Regions from separate parts of the Homo sapiens genome. Here all the other regions are linked to region 3. The links come from fine-mapping of genetic effects on plasma protein levels. A gene starts in region 3. Each other region holds a variant in brackets. All regions are shown on one strand. Distances are from middle to middle. Region 1 overlaps DENND4A (DENN domain containing 4A). Region 2 overlaps IGDCC4 (immunoglobulin superfamily DCC subclass member 4). Region 3 holds the start of IGDCC4 (immunoglobulin superfamily DCC subclass member 4). Region 4 overlaps IGDCC4 (immunoglobulin superfamily DCC subclass member 4).

The links. A credible set is the group of variants that fine-mapping cannot tell apart. PIP is the posterior inclusion probability: the model's chance that the variant is causal. Sun 2018 read protein levels with aptamers (SomaScan).
Region 1: its variant is the best candidate, but not a certain one, in a credible set for the plasma level of the IGDCC4 protein (Sun 2018, PIP 0.88).
Region 2: its variant is the best candidate, but not a certain one, in a credible set for the plasma level of the IGDCC4 protein (Sun 2018, PIP 0.66).
Region 4: its variant is the best candidate, but not a certain one, in a credible set for the plasma level of the IGDCC4 protein (Sun 2018, PIP 0.73). The variant lies in the coding sequence of IGDCC4. If it changes the protein, the assay may bind it differently, which can mimic a change of level.

Annotation. Positions count from the first base shown.
Region 1 is chr15:65,738,967-65,746,966 of GRCh38, reverse strand. It overlaps DENND4A (DENN domain containing 4A), which reads left to right. Exons shown (of 33, transcript NM_001320835.1): 5 at 5,183-5,252. Among named protein-coding and RNA genes, the nearest start is that of MIR4511, 24 kb to the right of the region's middle. The variant G/T (reference allele first, on the strand shown) is at 6,179.
Region 2 is chr15:65,403,524-65,411,523 of GRCh38, reverse strand. It overlaps IGDCC4 (immunoglobulin superfamily DCC subclass member 4), which reads left to right. Exons shown (of 20, transcript NM_020962.3): 2 at 154-504; 3 at 1,205-1,346. Among named protein-coding and RNA genes, the nearest start is that of IGDCC4, 15 kb to the left of the region's middle. RefSeq lists an enhancer at 268-925. The variant CA/A (reference allele first, on the strand shown) is at 6,394.
Region 3 is chr15:65,419,725-65,427,934 of GRCh38, reverse strand. It overlaps IGDCC4 (immunoglobulin superfamily DCC subclass member 4), which reads left to right and starts at 4,988. Exons shown (of 20, transcript NM_020962.3): 1 at 4,988-5,142. The coding sequence starts at 5,073. RefSeq lists enhancers at 4,176-4,710, 5,686-5,955, 5,976-6,085.
Region 4 is chr15:65,394,345-65,402,523 of GRCh38, reverse strand. It overlaps IGDCC4 (immunoglobulin superfamily DCC subclass member 4), which reads left to right. Exons shown (of 20, transcript NM_020962.3): 4 at 37-173; 5 at 1,578-1,718; 6 at 5,535-5,690; 7 at 6,361-6,774; 8 at 7,266-7,430; 9 at 7,976-8,113. Among named protein-coding and RNA genes, the nearest start is that of IGDCC3, 20 kb to the right of the region's middle. The variant G/A (reference allele first, on the strand shown) is at 1,604.

The sequences.
Region 1 (8,000 bases), 320 kb before region 3:
GCCCGGCCATTTTTTGTATTTTTTTTTTTTTTTAGTAGAGACAGGGTTTTACCATTTTTTTAGTAGAGAACAGGGTTTTACCATATTGGCCAGGCTGGTCTTCTGATCTCAAGTGATCCGCCTGCCTCGGCCTCCCAAAGTGCTGGGATTACAGATGTGAGCCACTGCACCTGGCTGAGTCTCCTTAAGGGTATTTTTTAAATACTCTTTCCACATGGCTCTTGTTTTACAACTGTCCAAGAATGTCAGCATTTGATTTAGCGAGTTTACTTAGAAAAGTAGAATTGAGCCGGGTGCTGTGACCTGTAATCCCAACACTTTGGGAGGCTGAGGCAGTTGGATCACTTGAGGTCAGGAGTTCGTGACCAGCCTGGCCAACATGCTGAAACCCTGTCTCTACTAAAATACAAAAATTAGCCAGGCCTGGTAGTGCACACCTGTAATCCCAGCTACTCGGGAGGCTGAGGCAGGAGAATTGCTTTAACCTGGGAGGCAGAGGTTGCAGTGAGCCGAGATCATGCCACTGCACTACAGTCTGCGTGACAGAACGAGACTCCGTCTCAAAAAAAAAAAAAAAAAAAAAAAAAAAAAAAAAAAGAGAAAAAAGTAGAATTGTTAACAAGGGAAGTAATTAAATCATGTACCTAATTCTGGGGGAAAGAGGAAGAATTTGAAAGTACGTTTTTGCTGTGGCAAACCACAATGTGGATACTTATTGGTAGAGAGTTTAAAGTAGTTTTAGAACAATGCCTCCTTCTTTTTTCACCTTGAACCTTGTGTGTAAAAAAATTTGGAAAATGCTTTTAATTCCTTTTTTTTTTTTTTGAGACGGAGTTTCACTCTTGTCGCCCAGGCTGGAGTGCGATGGTATGATCTCTGCACACCGCAACCTCCGCCTCCTGGGTTCAAGGGATTCTCCTGCCTCAGCCTCCTGCGTAGCTGGGATTAAGGGTGCCCGCCACCACATCCTGCTAATTTTTGTATTTTTTTTTTTTGGTAGAGACGGGGTTTCACCATGTTGGCCAGGCCGGTCTCAAACTCCTGGCCTCAGGTGATCCGCCCACCTCGGCCTTCCAAAGTGCTGGGATTACAGGCATGAGCCACCATGCCTGGCCCCGCTCTTAATTTTAATATCCATGGTTCTCTTTCCTACAGAGCCCCGTAACTTATACTGCATTTCTAACTCCTTGTTTTTCATTATAGAATATTCCTTTTGGTTTCTACTATATCCAAATGGTCATATAGTTCTTTTTTTATTGTCACCAAAGTTATTATTGAAGTTTTCTTGCTATCTTTACAAATTGGATTTATTGGGAAGTAGAGTTGGGACTTTCCAATAGAGAGCCCATTTTTATAAAATTTTTTTTATCCATTTGATAAACCAAAATTTGTTTGCCTATATTCATAATATCTGCTTGACTTTTACATATTCATGTGACTTAAAAAATATTTTTCCAGTAGATTAGTGTGTTAAATGTTGCTTATGTTCATTGCTGTGTTGGGATTTTATTTTTATAAATGCTTTAATATTTTTCCATCAAGAGAAAATTTCCCAAGGCTACAATCTCAACATAATTCATTAAACTATATTAAAATAAAAGGTTAAGGGTTTTTATTTTTTAGTAAGATATTTGCAGATAGCCAGACATATTATTTTATGTGTATTGTGTGTTTTAAATAAGAGAGATATTTGAATATTATTCTCTTTCACTTTAGTTTGACCACATTATGCTGTTAGCTATTCAGTATTTGGAAGGCTGACAGATACTTAAAGTTGAAAAGCAAAGATTTATGTTTTTGAATACTCAGGAGATTGTCATTTCTTGATAAAATATTATTAAATGATCATATAGTGCTATTTATGATATCTTCTCATTGTTATTCATCAGATTTTTAAGTACATCTAAATGAGAACTTGATTAAGTGAGTGTGAACTAAATATCAGAGAAACCAAAGTTGGAAAATAATTTATATTCAGACACTTGGCTTCTTACATGAAAATACTTATGTAACTTGTCTGTATTTTCTGTAATACTGATATTTTTCCAAAGTTTTAGTCGTTACCTTTAAGTAACTACTTGTCACCTCTTGTCACCTGGCTTTTGACAGGTATATAATGCATTTTTTATTCAGAAATGACTCAAGTACAATTCTTATTTAATTCTTGAAAGGATTACATGAGAAACAAGCCAACAAAAAGGCTTCTGTACATTCAAAATAGATACAAAGTTCAGACACTAAAAGCTTATACTTTATGAGTCTCTCAGAGCTACCCACTAATGTTTACTTAGTCTTATGTAAGTAAACTTTTTTGTATTCAGATAATAGTTAAGAAAATATATAATACACCAAATGGTGATACATGCTAAGGAGGAAAAAAAATGCAAGAGAGGGGTGATGGGGAGGACTGGGCAGGGTGGAGGGAGCCTTGTTATTATATGTAAAATGGTGAAAGGAAGACTCTCTGATAAGATGATGTTTGAGTTGATACCCCATGGAGGTGAGGAAGTGTGCCATGTAAATTTCTCTCATCACCTATACATCAAATGGTGACCTCTCTCAAGTTTGTGTGTCCATTTCAGACCGCTTACCTTAGCTCTATTTAGTTCTTCACTTGGATGTCTAATAGATGTTTCAAACTTAACATGTCTAAAACTGAACCCCTTATCTTCACCCCAAACCTGCTTTATCCACAGTCTTCTCCATCTCAATTGAGTTTCTTCCTTCCTGTTACTCAGGCATTGGCATCATCTTTGACTCTTATACTGTACTTCATATAATCAGATAGGATTTTTTTTTGTCTGTATTTTCAGAATATACCCAGAATCTGACCTCTTTTCATCATTCCCACTGTTGCTACCCTTATTCAAACTCTCATAATTTTTGCCTGGATTACTGATACAAAATAATTATGAGTACTTGCTTTCTTCCTTGTCTCCCACCCCCACTTCTCAACATAGTACTCAGAGTGACCTTTTAACTGTATGTCAGATAATGCCTCTCTTCTGCTCAAAACCCTCCAGTGGCTTTCACTATCTCCAAGAGTAATAGAAGCCAAAATCCTTAAAACAGCCTAAAAGGACCCACATGATCTGGCTTCCTTATCTCCCATCAGTATTTCATTTACTCTTCTCTGCTGTCATTGCCTCTTTAGCTCTTAGGTCATGACGGGCATACTTTTGTATCAGGGCCTTTCCTCTTGACATTCCTTCTACCTAGAAACCTCTGCTCCAAGATTAATTCATTCAGCAAATACTTTATGGAGTACCTGTAATGCACCAGGCACTGTTTTAGGTATTAATGATAACAGAATGTAGAACTTATCAGAGTGGAGGAAAATAGATGATAATAAATTTTAAACAAATAACTTTTAAAGTATAGTATGTTAGAAAGTGTTAAGTGCTGTAGTAAAAAAGAAAACCTAAAAGTATCATAAAAGGGGATTGGGAGTAGAGGGGAATGGGTTGCAATTTTAAATTGAGTGGTCAGGGAAGCCCTTATTTGAAAGTAATATTTGAAGGCAGTAAGGAAGTTAATCATTCAGATATCACAGGCAAAGAATGTTTGAAATATAGGGAACAGTCTGTGCAAAAGGCCTCAAGGAGGGACCATTCCTGGCATGTTTTAGGAACAATAAGGAAAATGGTGTGTCTTAAAGCAGAATAAATTATGGGGAGAATAAAGAGATTGGAATTGGGGGTAGATGATTAGGGCCTTTAGGTGATTGTAAGGACTTTAGCTTTTATTCTGAGAGAGACTGAGATTTTGAACAGAATAGTGACATGCTCTGACATTTGATTTAAAAGGATCACTCGTTTATGTAGTGATAGACTGTGGCGGGAAGCAAAGGTGGAAGGAGGAAGACCGTTTGGGAGATTATTGCAATCCAGGGTACTAGGGGTGGAGTTGTACAAATCACGTTAAATTGTAATAATAAAAACTTATTATATACTCCTTTTAATTATCAATGACATTACACTTCTTCATGTGCATGGATTGTGTAAGGAATGTGTTTCATAAAACTATTTTACCCTTATTTCAAAACTTTTAAATAAATTATGTATATATTTATTTAGTAAAACTTATTTAACTACTATGTGTGAGCCTCTGGGAGTACAGTGGTGAAGAAAACAAAATCCCTACCCTCATTGAGCATATATTCAAGTCAGAAAGACAATAAACAAACAAATATAGCATGTAATGATAAATAATCTTAAGAATAAAAAGAGGCTGGGCACAGTGGCTCACGCCTGTAATCCCAACACTTTGGGAGGCCGAGGCGGACAGATCACCTGAGGTCAGGAGTTCGAGACCAGCCTGGCCAACACCATGGCCAACATGGTGAAACCCCATCTCTACTAAAAATACAAAAATTGGCCGGGCATGGTGGCATGTTCCTGTAATCCCAGCTACTCCAGGAGGCTGAGGCAGGAGAATCACTTGAACCTGGGAGGCGGAGGTTGCAGTGAGCTGAGATTGCACCATTGCGACTCTATCTCAAAAAAAAAAAAAAAAATCAGCCAGTCATGGTGGCACGTGCCTGTAATCCCAGCTACTTGGGAGACTGAGGCATGAGAATCACTTGAACCCAGGAGGCAGAGATTGCAGTGAGCCAAGATCGCACCACTGCACTCCAGCCTGGGTGACAGAGCGAGACTCCATTTAAAAAAAAAAGATTTGAAAGTTAAGTTATTCTTTTAAGGAGTGGTAATTAAAGCCTGATTGGAAATGAATTTGGGAGAAAGTAGGAAATAAGGAAGTGGACTTAACAAATTACAACTCTTGAGGCATAAAGGATTGCAGAAAAACCTGGCAATATCTGAAACAGATTGTGGAGTCAAAGGTATGCACTTGAGTAGATACTTTATAGTTTATCATTTATACCCACAGTTTGGACTCAGAATAAAATCTAAATGGTTGTGACTTAGCTTTGTTTAAAAGAGTCAAGTTTTCCTCATGTTATTGCTGTTGCAAGGGGAAAAAAGTAGTAATTTACTTCTGAAAGAAAAGTGGACAGTGATTCCAATAAAATATTGACAAAACAGCCAACTGAAAATAGCTAGCAGAGGGAAATTTGTTACTACATATTAGATAATACATACTAGAGAGCTCAAAGAGATTCCATTTTATCAAGTTCCTACCTTTTAAAAATTAAATGATATTTCTATTTTTTTAAATCCAGTGGGGATCAGCAGTATACTTGTGTTATAAAAAATCGGTGGCAAAGACGAACACTGTATCTTACAAAGCTGGTAAGTGTAATTTTTCATGCAATACTTCATATATAAATGTATTATAGGGCCCGGAAAGGTTAAAGTAAAGAAACCTGCCTAGTCTGTGTTAGTATCAGGACTGGGACTACAATCCGTATCTTCTGATTCTCATTTTTGTCTTCACTTATATGTTTATTGGATGCTTGATGGAAGATTAATTTTAAAATAAGGTGAGTTTTTATTTTAAGCCTTGGGTTTAAATAAATAATAAGATCTCAATTATCTTTAAGTTTTTAAATCAGCAGAAATATGGTAAAATGTATTTTCATTTTAAATTAATATTTCTTTAATACTTAAATTTAGTAAGAGCTGTAGTTCACATGAAATCATGTTTCATAATAATGGAAAATATTATAAACCAATTTGGAGTTTTATAATCCATAGTCAAAATGTCCAATTTTCAGAGACCTCAAAATACCAAACATAGTGACCTTATTTACAAGAGAACAGATTCAGCCTTTTAAAAATTGCTTTTATGCAGGGCATGGTGGCATGTGCCTGTGGTTCCAGTTTTTTCGGAGGCTGAGGCAGGAGGATTGCTTGAGCCCAGGAGTTCAAGACCAGCCTGGGCAACATAGACCCCATCTTTAAAAATATATACATATATACCAGCCTGGGCAACATAGACCCCATCTTTAAAAATATATACATATATACATATACATTTATATACGTGTGTGTTTAGAGTTCTAGACTCAAGTTTCTCTTTTACATTTGATTTTTTTTGGGGGGGGTACGGGGTCTCATTCGGTTGCTCAGGCTGGAGTACAGTGGTATGATTGTAGCTCACTGCAACCTCAGACTCTTGTGCTCAAGGTATCCTCTTGCCTCAGTCTCCCTAGTACCTTGGACTATAGGAGTGTCCCAGCATGCCTGGCTAATTTTTTAAATTTTTGTAGAGACAG[G/T]GTCTTTCTTAGGTTGCCCAGGTTGGTCTTAAACTCTTGGGCTCAAGCGCTCCTCTTGCCTCAGCCTCCTAAAGTGATGGGATTACAGGTGAGGGCCACCATACCCGGCCTTTGATATTTTTAGATCTACAATTTATCACCTTTTTTTTTTTTTCTTTTAAAGACAAGGTTTTGCTCTGTTGCCTAGTCTAGAGTGCAGTCGTGGGATCATAGTTCACTGCAACCTTGAACTCCTGGGCTCAAGCAGTCCTCCCACATCAGCCTCCCAAGTAGCTGAGACTACCGAGAGTACATGGTGGCATGTGCCACCGTGCCTGGCTAATTTTTTTTTTTTTTTTTTTAGTAGAGATGGAGTCTTGCTGTATTGCCCAGGTTGCTCTTGAACTCCTTCGCTCAAGTGATCCTTCCACTTCAGCCTCCCAAAGTGCTGAGATTACAGGCGTGAGCTGCTGTGCTGGCTACTGGCTCTCATCAATATTTCTTTTTTTTTCTTTCTTTTTTTTTTTTTGGGAGATGGAATCTCACTGTGTTGCCCTAGGCCTAATTTGTGGATATCCTCAAGAAGATTATGAGTCATTCTCACTACCAGAATCCGTTCCTCTATTTTGTTTACCAATGGGTGCAACCATTGAAAGGCTGGAGTGCAGTGGCACGATCTTGGCTCACTGCAACCTCCGCCTCCCGAGTTCAAGCAATTCTCCTGCCTCAGCCTCCCGAGTAGCTGGGACTACAGGCACACACAGCCACACCTGGCTAATTTCTTGTATTTTAGTAGAGATGGGGTTTCACCGTGTTGTCCAGGCTGGTCTTGAACTCCTGAGTTCAGGCAATCTGTCCGCCTCGGCCTCCCAAAGTGCTAGGATTACAGGCATGAGCCACCACGCCCAGCCGGCCTTCATCACTATTTCTATACTTACTTTATGACTTTATTAATTACCTCATGACCTGAGAGAGTAGTACAGAGTTAACTATAGATCCTCATGGGACCTACTTGCTGGCTAGCATGTAATTAAATAATTTTAGAACTGCCTTGGACCTTAGTTTATCTACTTCATCTGATTTTATAGATGAGAAAACCATACTCCTGTAGTATGTCATTTGTCCAAAGCCACAGATATATTAGTGGCAGAACCAACAACCACTTATATTCCCCCAGTTTATCTTTTTGTCTTTGTGGCTGTCTAGTGATAGTTTCTACTTGACTTTAAGGGCTTTATGGCCAGGGAACCTATTTTCTGTTTCTAGTTCCACAAAATGAGGTACAAGGTTCTTCCTGGAGTGTATTCAGTGGAAGATGCCTGGACCGTTTTCCTAATGTAAACATTAGTTTACCTAATGTGAAATCATAGGCAACTTAAAACTCTATCTTCATATAACCTGGTGTTATTTAGAAGCTGAGCTTGAGTTGATACTATTCCTAAGACATTGTAAATATGTGACTCTTCTATTTTTATGAAAAATTTTCCTGTATTTGTGCTAGAAATTAACATATACTCCTATGGGATATGAATTTTAATGTGTAAAAGTTATTGAGAGCTGATGAAGTAGATAGATGAAAATAAACCATATTGAAAATTTCAAAAACTTAGTATTCTTTCTAAGGTAGTGTGACCACAAGCTGAATTTTTAGGAGTATGTTTGTGCATTTCTATAGGATATCTTTTTCTTGTTAGCTTTAACATAGCCTTTATAGATGAAGCTTGATAAATATTAAGCAGTTAGTTAATAGTTGTAATGTTCAAGGATTAAAATCTCTATGAATCCTACCAAAGTATTCAGTGTTATTTGATGAACATATATATAATGCTTTGGCATTCCAAAT
Region 2 (8,000 bases), 16 kb after region 3:
GTCCAAGGTCACAGTTAGTAAGGGGAGAGCCAGGATCCAGATGCAGGTGTTTCTCCTTGATTTGCCCCAGCCCCTGCATGGGTGACTCAGGAGCAGAGGCTGTGGGAGGTGGGGGGACATACACTGATGGCCCCGTGCTCCTCCTCTATGCAGGGGAGCTGCTGTTGCCCCAGGAGACGACTGTGGAGCTGAGCTGTGGAGTGGGGCCACTGCAAGTGATCCTGGGCCCAGAGCAGGCTGCAGTGCTAAACTGTAGCCTGGGGGCTGCTGCCGCTGGACCCCCCACCAGGGTGACCTGGAGCAAGGATGGGGACACCCTGCTGGAGCACGACCACTTACACCTGCTGCCCAATGGTTCCCTGTGGCTGTCCCAGCCACTAGCACCCAATGGCAGTGACGAGTCAGTCCCTGAGGCTGTGGGGGTCATTGAAGGCAACTATTCGTGCCTAGCCCACGGCCCCCTCGGAGTGCTGGCCAGCCAGACTGCTGTCGTCAAGCTTGCCAGTAAGTGCTTGCATCGGGCGGGGGTCTGAGGCTGAAACCCAGACTTGGGGTGTGCGAAGTGGGATCTGCAGTTAGTTACTTGCACAAATGCCTCTCTCTTGATCCCACTCCCCCTTTCCCTGCCTCCCATCCTGCTCAATAGGTCTCTTCCTGGTATTGTCTATCCTCATTCTTGGGTATTCCATAATCTTCCCGCTTCTTCTCCACTCCCCTGTTCCTTCTGCTTTTCTTTCCCTTTGAGTCCTAGAGTCTGGGCTTGTGCTGTCCTCCAGGGAGCCTGCCAGAGTGCCCCCTTTGTGTCAGAGGCACAAAGCTGCCTCCTAAGGGAGCTCCTGCCTGCACGGCAGGTGGAACATGTGGAGCCAAACCCCACGCTCCAGCCTTACCCCTTAGGGGGCTCTCAGGAGGCACAGATCACCATGAAGTAACTTTCAGGCCAGAAGAAGTGTGCATCTTACTGTATAGTTTGACCATCATGATGATGTTGGGCAGGGGGGCTTTGGAATTCATTCTGCTGGCAGTATCTGACCGCTAATCACCACTTCTTGTTGTGTCTCCCTCGGTCTGAATTGGCTCTGCTGTGTGTTTCTGTGACTGTGTGTTTCTGTGTCTCCATGCGGATGTGTTTCACTGTTTGTGCTTGCTGTGGCTTCTCTCTCCTATTCTTTTCCCGTCCCTGCCTGTGTCTCACTGTCCCCAGCACTCGCAGACTTCTCTCTGCACCCGGAGTCTCAGACGGTGGAGGAGAACGGGACAGCTCGCTTTGAGTGCCACATTGAAGGGCTGCCAGCTCCCATCATTACTTGGGAGAAGGACCAGGTGACATTGCCTGAGGAGCCTCGGTGAGTGCCCTGTAGGGGAGCGGGTCCTGGTAGGCAGGGCAGAGAGGGCTCTGGGGTGTGCTCAGAACTGAGATTCTTAGAGTCGAGGTAGCTGCATTTACCTAAGCTGACTTGAGTGTTAACCACCGCCTGACTCCTGGCTCATGTCTAGTCCCAAAGAGAAGTTGGACAAGAAGTTTTTGCTCCCTGGGAGGAAGCCACCCATTGAGCTGTGGAGCCTGGGTAGGTGTAGTAGTAGAGTCCTTCCCAGCACATCTAGTCCAACCACTTGCTTTATTGTGGAGACTGAAGGCCAGAGAGGAGCTGTGGCTTATCCCAAGCCGTACCATGAGCCATTGGCAGAATGTTGGTTGTCTGTTGAGGGCTCCCCGAGGCTGCTGGGAAGGTTTTCTCTTTTCAGGGTTCCTCCGGAGTTTCCACTCTAGATGCATAACTTCTCTTCCTCTCTCAATTCCATCCAGTGGGGCGTAGCCCTCTGAGAAGTGAATTGTAGAGGTCTTTCCTCTTTCACTCTCCTCTTTCCCTGTAAAGGCAATGGATGGGTAGAGCAATCCCAGGGAAGAGTTTCCAAGGCGGAAGGGAAGCAGAGGCTAGACCTTGGACTTGGTCCCTCTTGTGGCTTCCTGGGTAGGTCCAGATGTGTATGCAGCGTACCAGAAACCACAAGGCTCATTTGCATCTGTGGTCTCTGAGTTGGTCTCATGACTCAGTCATCACCCCCTGGATTCTTACGTATCTTTGGAAATGTGGCTCCAAGGCCTTTCCCAGCCACCCTGCAGTCCTCTCCCTATATCTCGGTAGCTGTAGTTACCAGCTAGATCCTTCTCCCGTCCTGGTGGAGGTGGGGCTCCTTGGGCTCTGAAACACTGCCCTTTCTCCCCTGGATCCAACCTTCTGTTGCCTGTGTTGCATTGTCCCAGCTCCTCTGACTTTTGCCCATGTGTAGGTAAGGATGGGGGTTGTAGGAGAAACTTCGGGGTAGAAAAGCCACAGGACAGTTGTGAGGGAGGAAGAGGGTGAGAGGTCCATACATAAGAGATCCTGGCTGGGTGTGGTGACTCATGCCTGTAATCCCAACCTTTTGGGAGGACGAAGCAGGAGGATCACTTGAGCCCAGGAGTTCAAGACCAGCCTATGCAAAATATCAAAACCCAGTTTCTATAAAACAATACAAAAATTAGCCCAGTGTGGCAGTGTGGTGCCTGTGGTCCCCGCTACTTGGAAGGCTGAGCGAGATCACTTGGAGGTTCAGGCTACAGTGAGCTGGAATAATGCCACTGCATTCCAGCCAGCCTGGGTGACACACCGAGACCCTGTCTCAAAAAAAAAAAAAAAAAAAGAGAGAGACATCCTGTTGACTTTGGTGATGGGTTAGCCCCACTGGTCCTCAGAGAGTCACTTCTCACCCAGTCTATTCTCCTTCCCACCTATAAAATGAAAGGGGGAAACAAATGAAAATTGATTTAGATTGTGGTTTCCCAAAGCGTGGCCTTTATAGAATGTTAGTCCCTTTAAATGCTTCTTGAATGAAGTATTCTATGATCAAATAAGAACAGGAAACTGCCTGTAAATCTCCCTCCTGGAGTTGGCAAGGCCCTGAGAAGTGCTGTATCGAGAATCCTGTTGACCTTGTTTAACGAAGCACTTCCTAGGCTCGTTTGCCCAGGAGCCCCTTAACATCCCATGAATGAGCATTCTAGAGGGTGAACCCTGGGAAATGCTGACCCAGCCTTTCTAACACTGACATTTGAAGTTCTGTGCCTTTCTAAATGTGGAGCCTGTCACCACTGTGTGATGATGGGTGCCTCCTGGGAGTTCCATGAACCCAGAACAGATGAGCTAGGCAGGAGAGAACCACGCGAGAGCCTACTCCTGATGCCCCCCAGAGAGGGTAGCAGAAGGCAGCAAAATCTCCCCATGTTGAAAGTCACAACATGAACCACTTAATGGGAGTGTACCTTGGGCCAGGCACGTGCTGAGCCTTTTACATGTTTTCTCACTTAACCCTTCCAATCATCCTTTAATGTAGGTATTTCTTATTTTCACATTTTCCTCTATTTACTTTTAATTGATATTCCAGCAGATGCATTTTTAAAATTCATATCAATATGGCTGGGCGCGGTGACTCACGCCTGTACTCCCAACACTTTGGGAGCCAAGGCGGGCGGATCGCTTGAGCTCAGGAGTTAGAGACCAACCTGGGCAATATGGTGAAATGTCATCTCTCAAAAAATACAAAACTTAGGCCGGGCGCGGTGGCTCACGCCTGTAATCCCAGCACTTTGGGAGGCTGAGGCGGGCGGATCACAAGGTCAGGAGTTCGAGACCAGCCTGACCAACATGGTGAAACCCTATCTCTACTAAAAAAAAAAAAAATACAAAAATTATCCAGGCGTGGTGACGCATGCCTGTAATCCCAGCTACTCAGGAGGCTGAGGCAGGAGAATCACTTGAACCCGGGAGGTGGAGCTTGCAGTGAGCCAAAATTGAGCCACTTCACCTGTCACCCAGGCTGGAATGAAAATACAAAACTTAGGCCAGGTGCAGTGGCTCACGCCTGTAATCCCAGCACTTTGGGGGGCTGAGGTAGGTGGATCATCTGAGGTCAGGAGTTCAAGACCAGCCTGGCCAACATGGTGAAACCCCGTCTGTACCAAAATTACAAAAATTAGCTGGACATGGTGGCAGGCGCCTATAAACCCAGCTACTCAGGAGGCTGAGGCAGGAGAATCGCTTGAACCCAGAAGGTAGAGGTTGCAGTAAGCCAAGATCACACCATTGCACTCCAGCCTGGGTGACAGAGGAAGACTCCGTCTCAGAATAATAATAATAATAATAAATTATATTGTACATACTAGGTTTTTTGTTGAATCATCTTTTTTTTTTTTCAAAAACAAAAATGGGATTATGTTGCAATTTTAATTTTTTTTTCACTTACCACTTGATAAACATCCTTCCAGGTCTGTACATATGGATATGGTAGGTATTTTTATCTGGATTGTTAAATGAGGGATTGGAGGATCAGAGGCAGAAATAACTTGCCCCAGGTCACACAGCTTAGTACTCAGAGTGTCAGACTCCAGCGACCTGCGTGGAGGATACACAGGCCTCTGGTAGGTGTCATTTGGTGGCTGGGTGCGGAACCTGTGAGGTCTGAAGAAGTTTGTATCACATTACAACTTTAATTTTTTAAAAAATTAATGGTGGATTTAGAAATCTGTAGTCCAACTGTGGCTGGGAGCAGAGAAGTTACTTCCCCAAAGCTTCTCAGCACACCAGTGGGTTTCAGACCTCCCCACCACCCCCAACGTCTAGCTCAGGCGTCATCCCGTGAAGCCACAAACCTAACCCAGGAGGCCAGAGCTGCCAGTTTTTGGACTCTGGGAGTGTTTGCCCCCAAGTCCTCTGAAAAGTGATCCTCATCTATAAATAAGCTAGGCTCGCATGTCCCGGCACATTGTGTGGGGGGAATAAAGAAATGTCTAAAACAGCAACTTGATTATGCCCAAGGTATGTATTTTTACACATGCCCAGATATAGTGCATGCACAAATATGCTATTCATAAACTCAGCCCAGTGGTTTGAAGGAGACCGTATGCCTTGGTGTAACGTGGCACATGTGCAGTTAATAAACACACTGCGTCAGGGTGTATGTGCTTCGTTTGGAACTGATGGTAAAGACTAGACCCCAAGGCAAATCCCCGGTACTCATACTATTTTCTAATAATAGGGGATAATCTAGGGGATAATTTTTCTTTCATGGGAACTAGTAATCAATGAGAGCAATGTTTCCCAAATCCCAGGTATTCAAAAACCACCTTCATAATTGTGACCATACTTATACCATTTACACAACCACTTCATAATTTTCTTTACATCAACTCGCTCTTTCGTAACTTGAACACATTTTAAAAGGGAACATTATCTCACTGCAATAAAATGGAAAACCAGCAACACTTGCCATAAATAGAAGATAGCCATAAAAATAAATAATGTAACTTCTAGGATAAAAAGCCATGTATCTGGATCCACTTGAAATCATTTTGTTATCGCCATTCACTCACATTTTAAGAAACATGGAACTAAGGGACTTAAATAACATGGGCTCCGGCCCTACCCTCTCCCAGTGGTTACCATTTCTGTCAATCTCATGTGACTTCCAGCCAGTATCCCCTTGCCCTGGGTGGATCTCAAGGGCTTAGGGTGGGGGCTCCTTGGCCCTTGGGAAATTCAGAGCAGCTGCGTCATTTCTTCTGTGTTCTTTAATCCTCGGGGCCCAAGTGGCCTTTTGTGGGTAGGAGCAGCAGACTCAGGTTTGAGGCTGGAAAAAGAATCATCCCTTCCTTTCGAGTTGAGATTGTTTTTCATTTTATAAGTAGCTTTTATTTTATTTGAAATTTGAATTTCTCTTAAAATGGTAGAGTATACCAACTTTACAGAAAGGGGAAAAAAGTCACCTACTGACTGAACACAGCTTTTACCAATTTGAGCGTCTCCTTGCAGTCTTTTGAAATACGTATATGGGTTACACCATTGTAAACATGTGTTCAGAGCTTGCAATTCATAAATATGTTTATGTCCGTTATCTAATGTGAGCTCAAAACACAATAAGAGGGTCAGGGTTGTGAAGAAGGCAGGACAGGAATTATTTAACCCATTTTTCAAATGAGAAAACTGTGGCCCAGATACAGAATGTCACTTGCTAAAATCACATACATTGAAACCAGTTCTCTCCAGCATGTCACAGTGCTTCTGTGTTAGAGCCCAAGTTACAAACCAAAGTGTACAAGGGCACAGATTATTAGCAATTTACATTTAAAAATTTTTATATTTCCTAACTGATACATATTAATTGCAAAAAAAAAAAACCCACTTAACAGGCACAATAAATAAGAATCCCCCGTAATCTCACTCCTACAGAAAACCCCCATAAACCACACGAGCTTTGCCACCTGTGGCTTTTTCTATGTATATCCTAATATAACTTTTCTCTATTTTCTAAAAGTAGAATTTCTTCATAAACACTGTTTTTTTACTCCCCCCCCCC[CA/A]CTAACTAATATATTTTGAACACTTTTCCAAGGACAGAGCTTCTAAAAACACATTTTAGCAAAGCAAAAGATTTTTTTGAGTCAGGGACTCACTCTGCCACCCAGGTTGGAGTGCGGTGGCACAATCACTGCTCACTGCAGCCTCTACCTCCCGGTCTCAAGCAATCTCCCCACTTCAGCCTCCTGAATAGCTGGAACTACAGATGTGCACCACCATGCCTTGGCTAATTTTTGTATTTTTTGTAGAGACTGGGTTTTGCCATGTTGCCCAGGCTGGTCTCCAACTCCTGGCCTCAAGCAATCCTCCTGCCTCTGCCTCCCAAAAAGCCCGGCCAGAAAAGATTTTAGATGAACCCTAAAAGTGGTTCCATCTTGCCTCTATTGGCTGCAGCAATAGCACCATATCTGGGGAAAGGAATTCATTCATTCATTAATTTGTTCATTCATTCATTCATTCACTCAATCACATCATTAAGGGAATGTTATTTTTTCAAAGGAGAGACTACCTCTTGAGTACTTGGAGCACAATATTCCCTGGAAAGACCTAGAAACACTGGGGTTAGGAAATGTAGGCAGTTCCCAGCAGCATAGTCAGCTCGCTAGTTCGAGGGAGGAAAAGAGGAGAAAGAAAGGTCTTGGAGGAAGAGCACGTTAGATGGATGGGGGTGGGGCCTGTTTTCTAGGTGGGTCCTACTTGTCCTTCCCCAATTCGTCCTTTCCTGTCAGTTCTTCTCTGGCAGCAGACTGGGTCCTGGCCCAGGATTTTGCTCCAGCCACACTTGTCTCCCTGTCCCTTTCTCTCGCTCTGCCCCAGCACTTATGTAGGCAGCTGTTGGAGCTGAGGGTGAGAGGCTGGGGGCAGAGGTGGGTTTGCCTGTGTGATGCAGGAAAGAGCAGGGCATATTTATGCTTTTTTTCTCTAAGTCCTTTAAGTCTTTGGGCCACAGCAGGTTTGTAGGGCCCCTGTTTAGAACATTCTTCCTCCCCAGCCTTTGAACTACTTCTCCTGTTCCATGTTTAGATTTTTTTAGACCCCACTTCCCCAGGAGCTAAGGGATCTCCACCAAGCGCACAACTGCCCCCTTCCCTCTCTGACCTTGGCCCAGCCTACATCCCAGAGGCCAGCACCATTTGCTCTGTTGAGAAACTAGGATTCTCAACCTGGAGCTGACCCTGTAGGGATCCCAGTTGGAGGATTCCGAGGGACCCATTCACCCCCTCCTTAGGTCGGAGCCCACTCTGGTCTCCACCACCCCAACCCCCATGGAGACCTCCCTATCCCAGATTACATCGTTTCTCAAGTAAGGTCTCTGGACCTTTCTATTTCTTTAGCCCAGAGGGCAGGGAACACCCTCATCCATCATGCCCCTTCTAAGTAACATACGTGTTGGCTGGGTCTGCTTGGAGACCACGTCCTCTCCAAGGGCATTCTCAGCCATCCAATGGCTGCCGAGACAGGCAGGTAGGACAAATATGACATTTGGCACCAGAAGACTTGGGTTCGAGTTTTCACTCTGCTCCACCTGTGAGATCCTGGGAAAATACCCTCCTATTTTTCACCAGTAAAATGGAGGTTGTGACCTCCTCTATGTCTTGGGCTTGTTTT
Region 3 (8,210 bases):
TGCTGAGGTGGGAGGATTGCTGGAGCCCAGGAGGTTGAGGCTGCGGTGAGCTGTGATCATGCCACTACACTTCAGTCTGGGAAACAGAGCAAGACCCTGTCTCAAACAAACTAACGAAAAATAAATTTGGTTTTTGACCTGTCAGTGACTGAGTTTTGTTTTATTTGTTTGTTTATTTTTTCTGAGACAGGGTCTCATTCTGTTACCCAGGCTGGAGTGCAGTAGTGAAATCTTGACTCATTGCAACCTCTGCCTCCCAGGCTCAAGCAATCCTCCCACCTCAGCCTCCCAAGTAGCTGGGACTACAGGCACACACCACCACACCCAGCTAATTTTTTTGTATTTTTGTAGAGACGGGGTTTCACCATTTTGCCCAAGCTGGTCTTGAACTCCTGATTTCAAGAGATCTGCCTGCCTTGGCCTCCCAAAGGGCTGGGATTACAGGCGTGAGCCACCATACCCGGCCTGTCATATATTTTTTATGGTCCCACATGGCTATAAATTAAACAGTGTATAAATGACCAAGTATGAAAATAAGTTAAAGCTGTTTAATGATAAAAACCATGACAGTGAACCATGTTTATCTGAGCATGTTCCTCGACCCTCCACTAACCACCACCCTGGAACACCCCATACACCCTTGGAAGCTTTCCATGTTACCAGCTGAAAGAGGAAAATAATAGAATATTTTATTATTGATTTTTTTTTTTTGAGACAGAGTTTAGCTCTTGTTACCCAGGCTGGAGTGCAATAGTGCCATCTTGGCTCACTGCAACCTCTGCCTCCCGGGTTCAAGCGATTCTCCTGTCTCAGCCTCCCGAGTAGCTGGGATTACAGGCATGTGCCACCACGCCTGGCTAATTTTTGTATTTTTAGTAGAGACGGGGTTTCATCATATTGGTCAGGCTGGTGTCGAACTCCTGACCTCAGGTGATCCGCTCGCCTCAGCCTTCCAAAGTGCTGGGATTACAGGCATGTGCCAGCCACCATGCCCAGCCTGATTGATTTTTAAAAACACATTAAAACAGGTGCTATATCCACTTTTAATGTTGTGAACTCTTTGGAACTGGTTAGAAATGTGCATCATACCCCAACCCTTTTGTCTCAGTGATGAAACTGAGGCCCAGAGAGAGGATGGAAGTTGCCCAAGGTCATGCAGCAAGTCTGTAACCAAGGCAGGACAAGAACTATGGTTCTTACTCCTGCTGGGCTTGGCTGGCCTGAACCTGTAACTCTATCCCTCCTCCTCTCACATTTACTCCCTACCCAGAGCCCATGTAGTGAGATATGAATATAGATAAATTAATTAGATTTTTGTATGTGGCTGGTAGAATTAGTCTCTCTATATGGCAACACCTTGTTCATTCATTCAATTGACAAATCAATTGCTTTCTAGATAACATATGAGGCCAGTCCATCTGGCCCTGGCCTCCCTGTTTGGCTTCATGTCCTGCCCCTGCTCCCCTGCCCAGTCCACACCTCCTGCACTCTGCTTACATTGTCTTTCCTGTAAGACTTCTCTGCTTCCCCCAGGTCTGGCCCGAGTGCCCCTCTTCCCTGTACCCCATCACAGACTGTATCACACTTGTCCATCTCCCTCAGTAGCCTAAGCACCATTCAGGCAAGATTCCTCTTGTTCGCCAGTCTGCTCCCAGTGCCCAGAGCAGGGCCTGACCCATAACAGGTACCCCTTGAATCAATGATTGGATATGCCATTTCCAGGCAGGAAGAGCACACTTCCCTGTGCTCTCACAGCCCAGGGCCTCTGCAGAGGGAGTTTCTTGACCACCCTGTCAGTTCTAGCCTTTTAAATTGTCCAGACCCATGTCAAACATCCACAGGTCTGGCCCGAGTGCTCCTCCTCCCTGTACCCCATCACAGACCGTATCACACTTGTCCAATCAATAGTTCTGTGAAGCCTTCCTTCTCAACCTCCATGTCCCCCCACCCCACACACGGTAAATCCCTCCTCCTTTTGTTCCATCCTCCCTGCCACCCCATGCCACTTAGGACACTACTATCCTTGTGGGCAGGGACTTGTATTTTTTATCCAGGTCCCCTGGCACCTACACAGTGTGAGATACTGATTTAGGTGCTTAGCATTCAGCAGTGAACCTAGCAAACAAAAATCCCTGTCCTCATGAAGCACACATTGTGATTGTGAGGGGTGGGGGAACAGATCGAAAATAAGTAAAATGTAGAGCATATTAGTAAGTTACAAGTGTTGGCCGGGCGCAGTGGCTCATGCCTGTAATCCCAGCACTTTGGAAGGCCGAGGCAGGTGGATCACCTGAGGTCAGGAGTTCAAGACTAGCTTGGCCAACATGGTGAAACCCCGTCTCTACTAAAAATACAAAAAATTAGTCGGGCATGGTGGCAGGCACCTGTAGTCACAGCTACTCGGGAGGCTGAGGCAGGAGAATCTCTTGAAACCAGGAGGCGGAGGTTGCACTGCGCTGAGATCGTGTCACTGCACTCCAGCCTGGGCGACAGAGCAAGACTCTATCTCAAAAAAAAAAAGAAAGAAAAAAAGAAAGTGACAAGTGTTGGCCAGGCGTGCTGGCTCACGCCTGTAATCCCAACACTTTGGGATCCAAGGCAGGTGGATCACTTGAGGTCAGGAGTTCGAGACCAGCCTGACCAAATGATGAAACCCCGTCTCTATTAAAAGTACAAAAAGTTAGCTGGGCATGTAGTCCTAGCTACTTGAGAGGCTGAGACCCAAGAATCACTTGAACCCAGGAGGCGGAGGTTGCAGTGAGCCACTGCCCTCCAGCCTGGGGGACAGAGTAAGACTCTGTCTCAAAAAAAAAAAAAAAAGAAGAGAAAAAGAAAGAAAATAAAATAAAAAAGAAAGTGACAGTTAAAGACAAGAATAGACAGCAGGGAAGGAGGATAGGAAGAGTAGGGGGTGAGGCTGTGAGAAAGCCTTTATGGTATCCAGTATGAGGGAACAGATCTCTAGACTTGCACTGGCCGGACAAAGGTCTTGAGGCTGGAGGGGAGGAGGCTGCCCGCGATCAAGTTACAGCAAGGAGGATGGTGTGGCTGGAGAGGTGGTGAGCACAGGGGGTGGTGTCGAAGGGGAGGTCAGAGAGGTAGAGCAAGCCTACAGATCAGATAGGCCTTGTGGGTCACAATAAGGACTTTGGCTTTTGCTCTGACATAGGAGCCGCTGGTGGGTTTCTAGCAGAGAAGTGGCATGATCTCATTTTAACAGGAGCACTCTGGCTGCTGTATTGAGAAAACACTCAAGGAGGACAAGGACAGAAAAAGATCAGTGAGGAGTTTGCTGTGACAATCCAGGTGAGAGGCGACGGGTCTTGGACCAAGGCCACAGTGAGAAAGTGGAGGGTGAAGCATCTGAACATGAAGAGTAGGAGATGACTCTACATTTTTTTTTAATAGAAATGGGGGTCTCGCTATGCTGGCCAGGTTGGTCTTGAACTCCTGGCCTCAAGCGATCCTCCCACCTCGGCCTCCCAAAGTGCTGGGATTACAGGCGTAAGCCACCAAGCCTGGCCTCTACATTTTTGACCTGGGCAACAGGAAAGGAACTGAGATGAGGAAGACTGTGGGAGGAGAAAGATTGATAGAAAAGATCAGGATGAGTTTGTCTACTAGACAGCTAAAGGAACTGGGGCCTGGATGGCTGGATACAGAAGTCCAGGGTTCAGGAAAGATGGTCTAGGCTGAAAGTATACATTTGGGCATCATTAGCATAAAGATGCTCTTTAAAGCCTTGAGGACCAGATGAGATCACTAAGGGAAGCAAGTGTTTCAAGGAAGAGGGAGTGATTCACTAAGTCAAATGCTGCTGATAGGGCAAGTGAAGATGGGGCGTGGCAATGAATGAATAAACGCCAGGCCTGTTAGATATGCAAAGCGCCAGTGATTATTGAGGGTTAACTGACAACAGACAGGTGTAGAGACAAGATGGCTCTAAGTCACAGGAACACTTAGAGACACAGGGAAGGGAAGAACTATGGCATCTTGGAGTTGGAAAGGACCTTAACTAGGTCATTGAATCTGTACTCTTTTCCCCACCCTAGCCTGACAATTGAACCCTTGGCTGTAGAACAAGAAATATTTGCGGGATACTGAGGCAAACAGTCTGGCTAGGTAGGTTAGAGAAAGTACCGTTGAAGAATGAGAAAAAGGGTACTTCAGTAAATGCTGGACAGCAGAGGCAGGGTGAGGGAGTGGAGATGACCTTCCGAAGTCAGAAAACCAAGGTTCAGGTCCTGTATCTGCTGCTCCCTAGCCTCCTGTCCTTGGGCAAGTCACTTCACCTTCTCCAGCCTCAGTTTCCCCATGCGGCGACATCTGAATATGGTAGTGCTTGAAGGTAGTGTAAAAGTGTCCTGCCTGTGTTAGTTACTGCCAGAGCAAGGGAAGGAGGCCAAGAGAAGCCCTTGGTTTGGGATGGCAGATAGGACTATCAAGATCTCCGCAGGTGGGCTGGCGCAACGTGTGGAGAAGCGAACCAGCATTCAGGCCAGGACCTGGGCTGGAATGGACTGGGCTCGGGTGGCAAGGGGGCCATCTGGACAAAGACCGTGGCCCTGAATCTGCCTCCCCTGAGCCTGGAACGGAGGTGGAGACCCCGAGGCAGCAACAGGGAGAAGAAATAGAGACGCTGAGGCAGAGAGACCAGAAGACTCAGAGACGGGGAGACTAAGAGACAGACCCAGCAACAGGCGGCCTCACGGGGGCCCGCGGCGACCCGGAGAGGGCGAGGCACCGGGACACAGACCCGGGCCGAGAGGAGCCCCCGCGAGGCGCAGGGCCGTGGCGCGCGGGCGCAGGGTCCCCGGCGGGGCCAGGGTGGCCACACTCGCCGGGCGCCCCCTCCCGGGCCGCTCGCCCAAGATGGCGATGGAGGGGCGGGTGAGGCGGCAGCGGCCCTGGCCCCCGCGCCGGCCCCAGCTCGGGCCCGGGCCCCCGAGGCCGCGCCCCCGCCCGCGGCGCCGCGCCTCCCCGGGCCACTGACGCCCGGCGCGCTCTCCCCCCGCGGCGGCGGCCGAAGCACGGGGAGGCGGCGGCGGCGGCGGCGGCCCGAGCCCAGCCCCATGGCGCGGGGGGACGCCGGCCGCGGCCGCGGGCTCCTCGCGTTGACCTTCTGCCTGTTGGCCGCGCGCGGTAAGGGCGGGCGCCCGGAGAGGCAGGAGCGACTGCGGAGTGCTGGTGCGCCCGCGCCCTGGTCTGCATCGGGCTGCGGGGCTGGCTCAAGCCGGAGTCCCGAGCAAGTGCGGGGGCTGCGCGTCCAGGTGCCCGCGATGCCTGCGCGGGGGTCTGCGAGCTGCGGCCGGGGGGCGTTTGTGGGGCGTGCTTGTCCGCAGTGGGTGTGTGCCTTTGGTTCGCAGAGTCTGGAGTCGTGTGTGTGTGTGTGTGTGTGTGTGTGTGTGTGTGTGTTGGGAGTGCTCCTGTCGTGTCCGCAGTGCGTGCCATGGTCGCGGCGTGGCATCGGCGGGGCGGGTAGCTGCGGTGTCGGTGGCTTTCGCGGGGCGGGCTCTGCCTTGCCTGCGCGTGTCTTGGGTTGAGAGTGTGTGTAAAAGAGGAGGGAACTGGGGTTGTGTCTGCACCTCCATTTGGGTCGGGTGCGTGTGCAATTGTGTTTATGGGGCTGAGCTAATATTTGGCCTTGGCATTTGGGAAGTGTCCTTGCCCATAGTGGGGGACAGAGCGATGGATCCCGTTTGACTGGGGGTGGTGGTGATAAAACAACACTCAACTTTGCCCAGTGGGTGTGGTCCCTGGGGCCGGTTAGAGAGGGGTAGAGGGAGGTGTTGCTCCCCAAAACCTGTGGCCAGCAGTGGACTGGGGGAGGGGGCAGGAAACCATTTGCTTTCGTGGACATGTCCAGCGCTTGTTCTCACGATGGGACGCGTGTCACCCCGGCCCCACCCCCCAGGGACCGACCAGGGAAGCGTGGACGAGGTCAGCAGGGCCTCATCCAGTCCGCAGCCCAGTGCGGAGTGGGTACGGGGTAAGTCAGAGTTGTCCAAGCTGGAGAAAGGGCTGGGGAGGGGATAGCGAAGTCCCCAAGGGTGTGTGTCTAGGGCTGCGGCTTCCACCCACAGCTCTGTCGCTTCCTGTCCGGTGTGCGTTTGGGGGCGGCTCATGGGGAGTGTAGGTGGCAGGGCTGGGAGGGGGATGGGCTGGCCGCTTTGTTCGCCTAGTTCTTGCCTTCCCCGCGGAGGGGGGAGCTGAGGATGTGTCCGGGGAGAGTCGGGGAGGGACTTGGAGGTGGGGGTGGGGAGGGGGATTTCTCTCCAGCTGCTGCGGCTTTCCAGAGAGACTCAGCCAGGCCACGTGGGAGGGAGGCGGGGGGAAGGAGCCTCCGCCTGGCCAGCCCCAGGCCCATCTCCAGGAAAACCAAACAGCGGGTGGGAAAGTGCCGGGAACTCCTCGGACCCCTTCTGTCCCTACAAAGACACGCCCCTTTCCAGCCCCAACAGCGGATTAAGCTGGAGGCCGCCGCGAGGCTGGGTCTCGGCTGCTGGGCCAGAGGAGCTGGAGGCCCTGGCTTGTCAGGTGAAAGGGGCGGGGAAGTGTCAGAGAGAGGTCTGTCTTCCCAGAGCTCAGGGGATTAAGGAATAGTTCCCCTGCCCCACCTTCCGCTATTCCTAGGGCTCCTGGAACGAGCTCAGGGTCACCCAGCTAAACGGCATCAGGGCTGGGAACCGCACCGGCGCATTATTCAATACCTTTAGGACCTGCCGCGAGGGACCCAGCTTCCCTGGCCTCTCCCTGCTCCCGAACGCACAAAGCAGGCGAGGGACCGAGTTGCGGCGTCTCTTGGTTGCAGTGTGAGTGGCTACAACAGCTTGCCCTGGTCCTCCAAATCTCAGCAGGCCGGGGGACACTCCAGTCGAGTCATGACTAGCCACCCTGATCTGTACTGAGGTCATTCATTCGTTCAACAAATATTTATGGAGCACCTTTTATAGGCTAGCTTGTGCCTAGTGCCTAGAATATAGTAAATAAGGAGGCAGACCTGATCCCTGGTGCAAAGCTTTCAGTCTGGTGGAGGGGGAAACTGACAAGTCCCCTGAAGTGCTGGGGAAGACGCAGGAAGGAGGGGCTCCTACACCGATCTGGGAAGGTCAGCAAAAGCTTCCTGAAGAAAGTGATGAGTAGTAGAGCTCGACATGGAGTTAGCCCTGTAGAAGGAGAATGATGATGGGGACAGTTTTCCAGAGAACAGCATGTGCAAAGTTCAGAGGTGATTTAGTTGAGATCATTGGATTAAACTAAATCTAGCTGGAGTTTAGGGACAAGGGGTGGATGGGGGGCAGGTGAGGGAAGCATGGAAAGGGGTCAGGGAGTATCAAGACAGGAGGCTGAAGAGGGGAGCTAGATCCAGCTCACAAAGGGCTTTACAGGGCCCACCAAGGTTTCTGGCCTGAGAGTCCCCATGAGCCCTTGACAGGATTTAAAATCAGCTTTGCATCATCTCATTCCAGCCAGTGTGGAGGATGGATTGGGTGGGGCTGGAGGCAGGAAGCTCCAGCTCCTTCGAGGCTGTTGTAGCAATCCAGAAGAGAGGATGGTGGCAGCTAGCATAGTGGCAGTTGGGGTTGGGCTGGAGTGGCTGCATTCCAGAGATTTTCAGGAAATAGAATCAGTAGAACTTGAGGATAGATTGAATTTGTAGGGGGCGAGAGAGAGGAAAGTAAGAAATAGGCCGGGTGCGGTGGCTCACGCCTGTAATCCCAGCACTTTGGGAGGCCAAGGCGGGCGGATCACGTGAAGTCAGGAGTTCAACACCAGCCTGGCCAACATGGTGAAACCCCATCTCTACTAAAAATACAAAAGTTGGCCAGGTGTGGTGGTGCATGCCTGTAATCCCAGCTACTCGGGAGTCTGAGACTCGAGAATCGTTTGAACCTGGGAGGTGAAGGTTGCAGTGAGCTGAGATCACGCCACTGCACTCCAGCCTGGGCGACAAAGTGAGACTCTGTCTCAAAAAAACAAACACAACAACAACAAAAAAACATGAGGCAGAATGAAGGGCTGGTATTGGGGTTAGGATAATGCCTGTGCCTGCCCATCTCCTCCCAACACTGTTCTTGAGTCAGGGACTGGGACCCCTTTGTGAACAGGTGGCGAGAAGCCGAGCTCTGTTCTTATCACACGCACAAAGGTGGGGCTCTCGGCTCTCCCTTCTTCCCAAGTCAGAATTTGGAGGGTAGGGAACCTAGAGG
Region 4 (8,179 bases), 25 kb after region 3:
GCCCACCTCACAGTTGCCTGCTCCCCTCTTCCCAAGGCTCATCGTGCTTCCCAACGGCGTCCTTCAGATCCTGGATGTTCAGGAGAGTGATGCAGGCCCCTACCGCTGCGTGGCCACCAACTCAGCTCGCCAGCACTTCAGCCAGGAGGCCCTACTCAGTGTGGCCCACAGAGGTAAGGGGGCTGGCTGGGTGGGGAAACCTGGGGGTTTCTGGAACCAGCCACCTCAGAGCTGGGAGGGACCTCAAGGGGTCCAGGCCTTGCCTTCAAGTAGGTGATAAATGTTAGTCCCATTGACTGGTGAGGCGATGAAGCCCAGAGAGGGTACTGCCACCCAGCAAACCAGAGAAGAAAGAACTGGGCTGGAACACAAGACCCCAGACTCCAAGGGCAGGGCTCCTCTCTTCATGCAGAGCCTGTGTGCCCTCTGGTTGGATGCAGTGTCGAAGGCTGGGGACAGAGGTGGGGATGCGAGGCATCTGAGGCGGTGTCAGTGCCCGGAAGCCCTGCTCCCTGCCCCTTTCTCTCCTGCCCTTCTATAGTCACTGAGGGGTCCAGGCACTGGGGGTTCGTCCCTCTCTGCTTTCTGTGCCTTGCAAATCTGGCTACCTGTGGCCTAGTGCTCTTATCCTTTACTCGTTTCTTTGAAAAGCTCTTGCCCCAGTGTGATGGATTAGGAAGGGCACAGTCTTTGGGGTTGGAAAGACCTGGTTTGAATCCTGCCTTCTCTGCTCACCATCTGCATGACCCTGGGCTCCTTATCAAATGCCCAGCTCAGAGAGGCTCGAAGAGTCCTTGAGATAAGAATGGAAAGTGCCTGGCACCTGGCAGGTGCTCAACAGATCTCACTTCAAGCCTCCCCCAGGGGCACCTCCCTTGCTTCCCTTTGCCATGCATCCCTCCCACCTCCCACCCACTCTCTGCACTCCCACCCCGTCCCCATCCTGTTCCTTCTGGGCTTAGCTGGTAGGCTGCTCCCAGTCTGGTGTCGTCTTTCTTCTGTTCAAGGGGTATCTGCCTCCACCTGCTGGACAATCCAGATATTCACCACTCCACCCAGGGGGCCAGGGTCACACAAAGAACTTGGCAGGAAATCAGGGTTTAGGGAACTGCCGCACAGGCAGAAACTCAAGCCCACTGTCTGCCTTTTCCACTGGGAAATCCAAGGCCTTTTGGAGAAGGGATTTGCCAAAGGTCACCCAGTGCGTTAATGGCAGTGCTGGAACTAGAAACTATAACTGTTGACTCCAAGTCTGGTGCTTTGCCCATGACCCTGACAGTCCTCTGCCTAGATGGTGGGTTGCATTTGGGAGGGAAGAATGGAGGTAGGTGTGGGTCTGTCTAATCATTTCTCTGGTGCTGAGTTGAAGCCTAGGCAATTCTTCTGGCTCTAAAAGAAACAGCTCAGAGGTCCAGTCCCAGCCCTGCTGAATTTTATGGCTACGTCCCCCATCTGACAGATGGAATCATTGCTGCTGTCCCCGGTACCACCTCACCAGGTTACTGTGAGACTCAGGTGAGGTATCGCATGGCAAATGCCTAATGGTAAGGCTGCCTGCTGGTCTGTCTTCTCGCCAGGGTCCCTGGCGTCCACCAGGGGGCAG[G/A]ACGTGGTCATTGTGGCAGCCCCAGAGAACACCACAGTGGTGTCTGGCCAGAGTGTGGTGATGGAATGTGTGGCCTCAGCTGACCCCACCCCTTTTGTGTCCTGGGTCCGACAAGGTGAGTGGAGGGGGTGGGAGAAGGAGGGCATGGGAAGGGAGGGATGTGGCATCTCACATGCCCCTAAGTCAGGGGGATGTATGGGTGACGACCCAGTGGTCACGAACCTTCTGGTGTGGCACGAACTCCTTTCCCAGGGCTGGGTGTGGTGGTCAAGGTCGGAGCTGCGTGGGGAACTGGACAGACTTCCTTGTCACTCTGTGTAGCATGTGCTTTACAAAAGCACTTCCAAGCTGCCACTTACAGAACGGTTATTGCAGCCCTCCTGAGGCCAGGTGCTGAGCTAGGTTCTCCACCATAATTACATATTTCTGTTCCTCACAACGGTGTTACAAGTGAGTACTTGAGAGCTGGGAAGGTGCCACACAGCCAGTGAGTTAGGTGGAACCAGACCCCTCTGTTGGTCCGTGCAACTATAAGGCAAGCTCTGGGTCCACCCCAGCATACTGCTGTCTTTGTGTGACTGGTATCATACTGGGCACAGTGAACAAAACACAGAGAGGCAGGGACCCTGCCCTCTGAACTCATCGTCTAGTGAGGGAGAGAAAACACACATCTATGAAGAGAGGTCTGACAGTATCAGGCTACAAGTGAGAAGTGCCACTGAGTGACTGGAGATGCCATCAGGGTAACGCCAGTGCTGGGCCAAATTTCACTGTGCAGTCTCCTAAGCACTTTCACACCTGTTCTCCTGTCAGCCTCCAAGAGCCCTCTGGGGAGAGGAGGGGCCAGAACTATTATTCCCAGTGGGCAGATGAAGAAACTGAGGCTCAGAGAGGCAGTGGAAGAGCTGGGACCCAAGCTTTCAAGTCTGTTCTCTTTTTGGTATGCCAGTTCCTACAGTCCTGTAAAAAGAAAGCAAGGGTTATTTTTATTTCCATTTGTTGTTAAAAAGTGACTTGTCCCAAGTTGATGGCAGAAGTAAGTTTTAAATCCAGTTCTTTTTACCCCTTTCCCCAACTCATTCTATTACTCTATACATCTTTAAAAATATAAGTTTATATCTCATACTCAAAAGTGTATATCACGAATATATATAGTTTAAAGAAAATAAATTGAACAACTATTAATATGTACCCACCAATGAGCTGATAAAATAGAACAGTGCTGGCATTTTCGCACCTATCTGACCTGCACTGCCTCATTGGACCTGTGACACTTGCCTACTTAGGGGGCCAGCAGGACCCTTGTACTACTGGGATAAACTTGTGGTATCACCTAGAAGTTCTAATGTCAATATTTCTTAATTCCTGATTATGCATCAGGGTTACCCAGGGGACTTATTAAAACTGCAGACTCCTTTCTTCACCCCGGAGAGTCGTGTTCCAGGAATCTTTTTTTTTTTTTTTTTTTTTTTTGCCTGTCACCCAGGCTGGAGTGCAATGGTGTAATCACAGCTTACTGCAGCCTCCAACTTTTGCCGGCTCAGGTGATCTCCTACCTCAGCCTTCTGAGTAGCTGGGACTACAGGCATGTGCCGCTATGCCTGTATTTTTTTGTAGAGACAGGGTTTCTAGATGTTGCGCAGGCAGGTCTCAAACTCCTGGGCTTAAACAACCCACCCATTTTGGCCTCCCAAGGTGCTGGGATTACAGCCATGAGTCACTGCGCCCGGTGCTCCAACTGAAAGTGTGCTCTTCAGCTCTACTACCTATGACTAGTTAGAAATGCAGAATCTGGGGCCCTGCCTCAGTCCTCTACATCTTAACAAGGTCCCCTGCTAATCTGTGATTCGTGTGCACAGTACGGATTTGAGAATTGCTGTCCCGGAGGATCCTGACACCTAGGAAGAGAAGGGCTGGAAAGGAGCTTCATTCCTGACCCCAAGTACTGCTTTCTTTCCAGGAACTTACTCCACTAAGTCAGGGAAGGGGCATGGGTTGTTTGTTTTTGATTTTGTTTTGTTTTGTTTTTTTGAGACAGAGTCTCGCTCTGTCGCCCGGGCTGGAGTGCAGTGGCGCGATCTCTGCTCACTGCAACTTCCGCCTCCCGGTTCAAGCGATTCTCCTGCCTCAGCTTCCCAAGTAGCTGGGACTACAGGCACCCGCCACCACGCCTGGCTAATGGTTTGTATTTTTAGTAGAGACTGGGTTTCACCGTGTCAGCCAGGATGGTCTCCATCTCCTGACCTCGTGATCCAACCTCGTGATCCGCCCACCTTGGCCTCCCAAAGTGCTGGGATTACAGACAGGAGCCACCGCTCCCGGCCTGTTTTGTTTTCTTTCTCTCTCTCTCTTTTCTTTTCTTTCTTTTTTTTTTTTTTTTTTTTTTTGAGATGGAGTTTTGCTCTGTTTCCCAGGCTGGAGTGCAGTGGTGTGATCTTGGCTTACTGCAACCTTCGCCTCCTGGGTTCAAGTGATTCTCCTGTCTCAGCTTCCCGAGTAGCTGGGATTACAGGCATGCACCACCACACTCGGCTAATTTTTGTGTTTTTAGTAGAGATGGGGTTTTGCCATGTTAGCCAGTCTGGTTTCGAACTCCTGACCTCAAGTGATCCACCCGCCTTGGCCTCCCAAAGTGCTGGGATTACAGGTGTGAGCCACTGTGTCCGGCTGTTTTGTTTTCTGACTGCAAATGTTGTACATGTTCACCGTAGAAAACTAGGAAAAAAATAGATGCAGAAAACACTCAAACACTCCACTACTCAGAGATAAAAATTGTTTATGTACCAGTATATCTTCTTTCAGGTTTTTCTATGCCTATGTACAGTTTTCTCCCTGAAATTGAGAACATGTGCCGCATTTATAGTTCCAAGTCCTATTTTCATTCAACAGTATACCATAAGCATTTCTCTATCTTTAAAACTTTTTCAAAAAATTGTAATGACTAATATTCCATACTTTAAATATAGCTATAATGTAATTCACCAGTTCCTGCTGTTGGATTTTTAAGTCCTTTCCAGTTATCCGCTGTTACAGTTAACACTGCAGTGATCTGCTCTGTTCACAAATACTTGCCTGTACTTCTGATCATCTTCCTAGGACAGGTACACATAAATGGAATCCTTGGCTTCAAGGCCTAGGTGAAGCTCCTTTATGGCCCTTTCTCCAGCATTGCAATTTACTATTTTTAAAAATGTTCTCAAGTTGATGGGTGAAAATTAACATCTGTGTTTTAATATCTTTTTTTTTTTTTTTTTATAGAGACGGAGTCTCACTATGTTGCCCAGGCTGGTCTTGAACTCCTGGTCTCAAGTGATCCTTCCACCTCAGCCTCCCAAAGTGCCAAGAGCACAGGCATGAGCCACCGTGCCCAGCCTAACATCTGTTTTGAAGTGCCTTTCTTTGATGACATGAAGTTGAACATTTTTGTGTTTCTTGGCTATTTGCATTGCTTCTCTAGATTTTCTGTTCATGTCTACAAGGCAAGGGCTTTTTAAATGGTTTTCATTTCACATTGAGGTAAAACTTTGTGCGCATTCGAATCGTTGGCTTGGTCCGACCTTACCAGCCCTAGCTTCATCATAGTACTGGGCTGGGACCCCAGGGAAGGAGCATGTCCTTCTTGAGAGAAATGAATTCAGTAATGAAAACTGACGAGTGTGCTGAGCACCTATGATTAATATATGCCTGCACTGTGCCAGGGGTTCTGACATTCTTTCAATCCTCATGGAAACCCTGCCAGTTAAGGGCTAATTCCCCCTTACAGATGGAGACAGCCGGGCTCAGAGAGTCCCAGCAAGAGGAGGAAATGAGATTCGGACCAGGGACGGTTGTGTTTGCTTTATCCGGGTGCAGAGTGTTCCTGAGGTTCGGAGACTGAAGGGAAGGGCAGTCCCTAGCGTCCCCTCCAGCGCGTCTCCCTCTCCTTCCCCAGACGGGAAGCCCATCTCCACAGATGTCATCGTCCTGGGCCGCACCAACCTACTAATTGCCAACGCGCAGCCCTGGCACTCCGGCGTCTATGTCTGCCGCGCCAACAAGCCCCGCACGCGCGACTTCGCCACTGCAGCCGCTGAGCTCCGTGTGCTGGGTGAGGCGGGCCGAAGGGCGGAGGGAGCGGGTTAGCTGGGGCTGGGGTGAATAGAGCAGGGGGAGGTGGACGGGTGGGTGTGCTGGGGGCACTCAGGCGCTCTCCTGGAGGACGAACTCAGGGAGGAGTCCCTAGTAAGGCGGAGGTGGGACGAGGGATGGGGACTTGGTAACTGGAGGACGGAGTGCGGGGCGTTGAGTCTGGGATGGAGCGAGAGGGGTGATTAAGGCCTGGAGCGGGTGATTAGCGGGGAGTTGTGACTGGGGTTATTGTGGGGATAGTGGAGTGATCTGAGTGGTACTAAGAAAACTGGGGGGCAGGGTAGATCTGGTAGGTGTGGGACATATGGGAGGGCAGGGAGGAAGGAGATGGGTAAATTTAGGGGTGGGGTTAGATCCGGGAGGAGCAATATTTAGGGGAGGCTGAGGAGGCCTGGGGACAGTTTTGGGAGAGAAAGAGAATGGTCGTTGTGGGGCTGGGGTAAATGGGGAGAAGAAAGGGTAGGTCTGCGCTGAGCCGGAGTAGTTTGGAAAGGGTGAATCAGGGAGAGGTTAAAGTGATTGGAAGGGGAGCGAGGGAGGGCGGTGGGGGGCAGGCTTGGGGTACTGGGGGGGGGGCAGAGACCTTAGTTGCGGGATCCCGCGCTCAGCGTCGCCCCTCGCGCCCCTAGCGGCTCCCGCCATCACTCAGGCGCCCGAGGCGCTGTCGCGGACGCGGGCGAGCACAGCGCGCTTCGTGTGCCGCGCGTCGGGGGAGCCGCGGCCAGCGCTGCGCTGGCTGCACAACGGGGCGCCGCTGCGGCCCAACGGGCGCGTCAAGGTCCAGGGCGGCGGTGGCAGCCTGGTCATCACACAGATCGGCCTGCAGGACGCCGGCTACTACCAGTGCGTGGCTGAGAACAGCGCGGGAATGGCGTGCGCTGCCGCGTCGCTGGCCGTGGTGGTGCGCGAGGGGCTGCCCAGCGCCCCCACGCGGGTCACTGCTACGCCACTGAGCAGCTCCGCTGTGTTGGTGGCCTGGGAGCGGCCCGAGATGCACAGCGAGCAGATCATCGGCTTCTCTCTCCACTACCAGAAGGCACGGGGTACGTCGGCCTGGGGCGGGATGCACCAGCGCAGGCCCGGGCGGGGCGCAGCCAGAAGGGGTTCAGGTCGGATGACTGAAGGGTTGCCTGATGGGTACCTCTGCGGCAAGGATGGACTGGGGTAGGAGCCCATAGGAGAGACCCGCATAAGTATGGTAGGTATGGATTAGGCAACTGGCGCTGGAAGGGCCACTGCTTCCCTCAGTCATGTTTGTTGAGAGAGGAGGGAGAGGACGTTCCTGGAGCCACCTCCCATCCCAGTTAACTAACTGGAGAGGGGGGTCATTTCCAGAAAGCACTCCCTAACCAGTGGAGGAATTAATACACTGAGACAGGAAGCTGAGGGAGTTTATACACTCCAGCTCAGATTATCTGGGATGATTTAGCTATAAATAGACACCAGGACAATATGAAGGATTCCTATACAGACTCCAGCTAGCCAGCACGGGGGGGTGGCACTATGACAGTCCCCTTGTCCCCCGTGTCACCAGGCATGGACAATGTGGAATACCAGTTTGCAGTGAACAACGACACCACAGAACTACAGGTTCGGGACCTGGAACCCAACACAGATTATGAGTTCTACGTGGTGGCCTACTCCCAGCTGGGAGCCAGCCGCACCTCCACCCCAGCACTGGTGCACACACTGGATGATGGTAGGGCCTCTGAACTCGCAGTGGGCAGCTTGGGGTAAAGAGAATTCCCTGGGGAGGGGAGCTCACCCTCTCTTTACTAATGTAAAGGCATTTTTACCTGCTCATATCATCTTTTGTGCCCCGTAAGAGAGTGGGCGGGGTTCTTCTCCTCAGTTCACAGTTGGGGAAACTGAGGCCCAGAAAATGAGAATGATTTGCCCAGGTCAGTAGTTCAGCTGGGACTTAAGCCCAGGTCTGTGATGATTCCCTGTGTCATGCAGTTCTCCCTGACACCTATGTGCCATCCAGCTGGGGTAGGGGCCAGTGACATTAACCCATTAGACGTGGAAGATTGTGCTCCAAGACTTTTTCCAGCTTCAGGGTGGGAAAGATGTCCCCTCATCCTTCAGCTTGGGGCTCCCCTGAGAAGCTCCCTTTCCTCCCTCAGATCCTGGTCCTGGCCTACTTCTGACTTGCTGTGTGACCCAGGCAAGTCTCTGACCGCTCCCGAGCCTCACCTTCCACGTCGGTGGAGCAGAGCTCATGCTGATGTTCTTCTGTCTCAGTCCCCAGTGCAGCACCCCAGCTCTCCCTGTCCAGCCCCAACCCTTCGGACATCAGGGTGGCGTGGCTGCCCCTGCCCCCCAGCCTGAGCAATGGGCAGGTGGTGAAGTACAAGATAGAATACGGTTTGGGAAAGGAAGGTGAGTGGGGGTGGGTGGGCTGCAGGCATGTATGGGAATGATCAACGTGAAGAGCTGTCAGGGCTG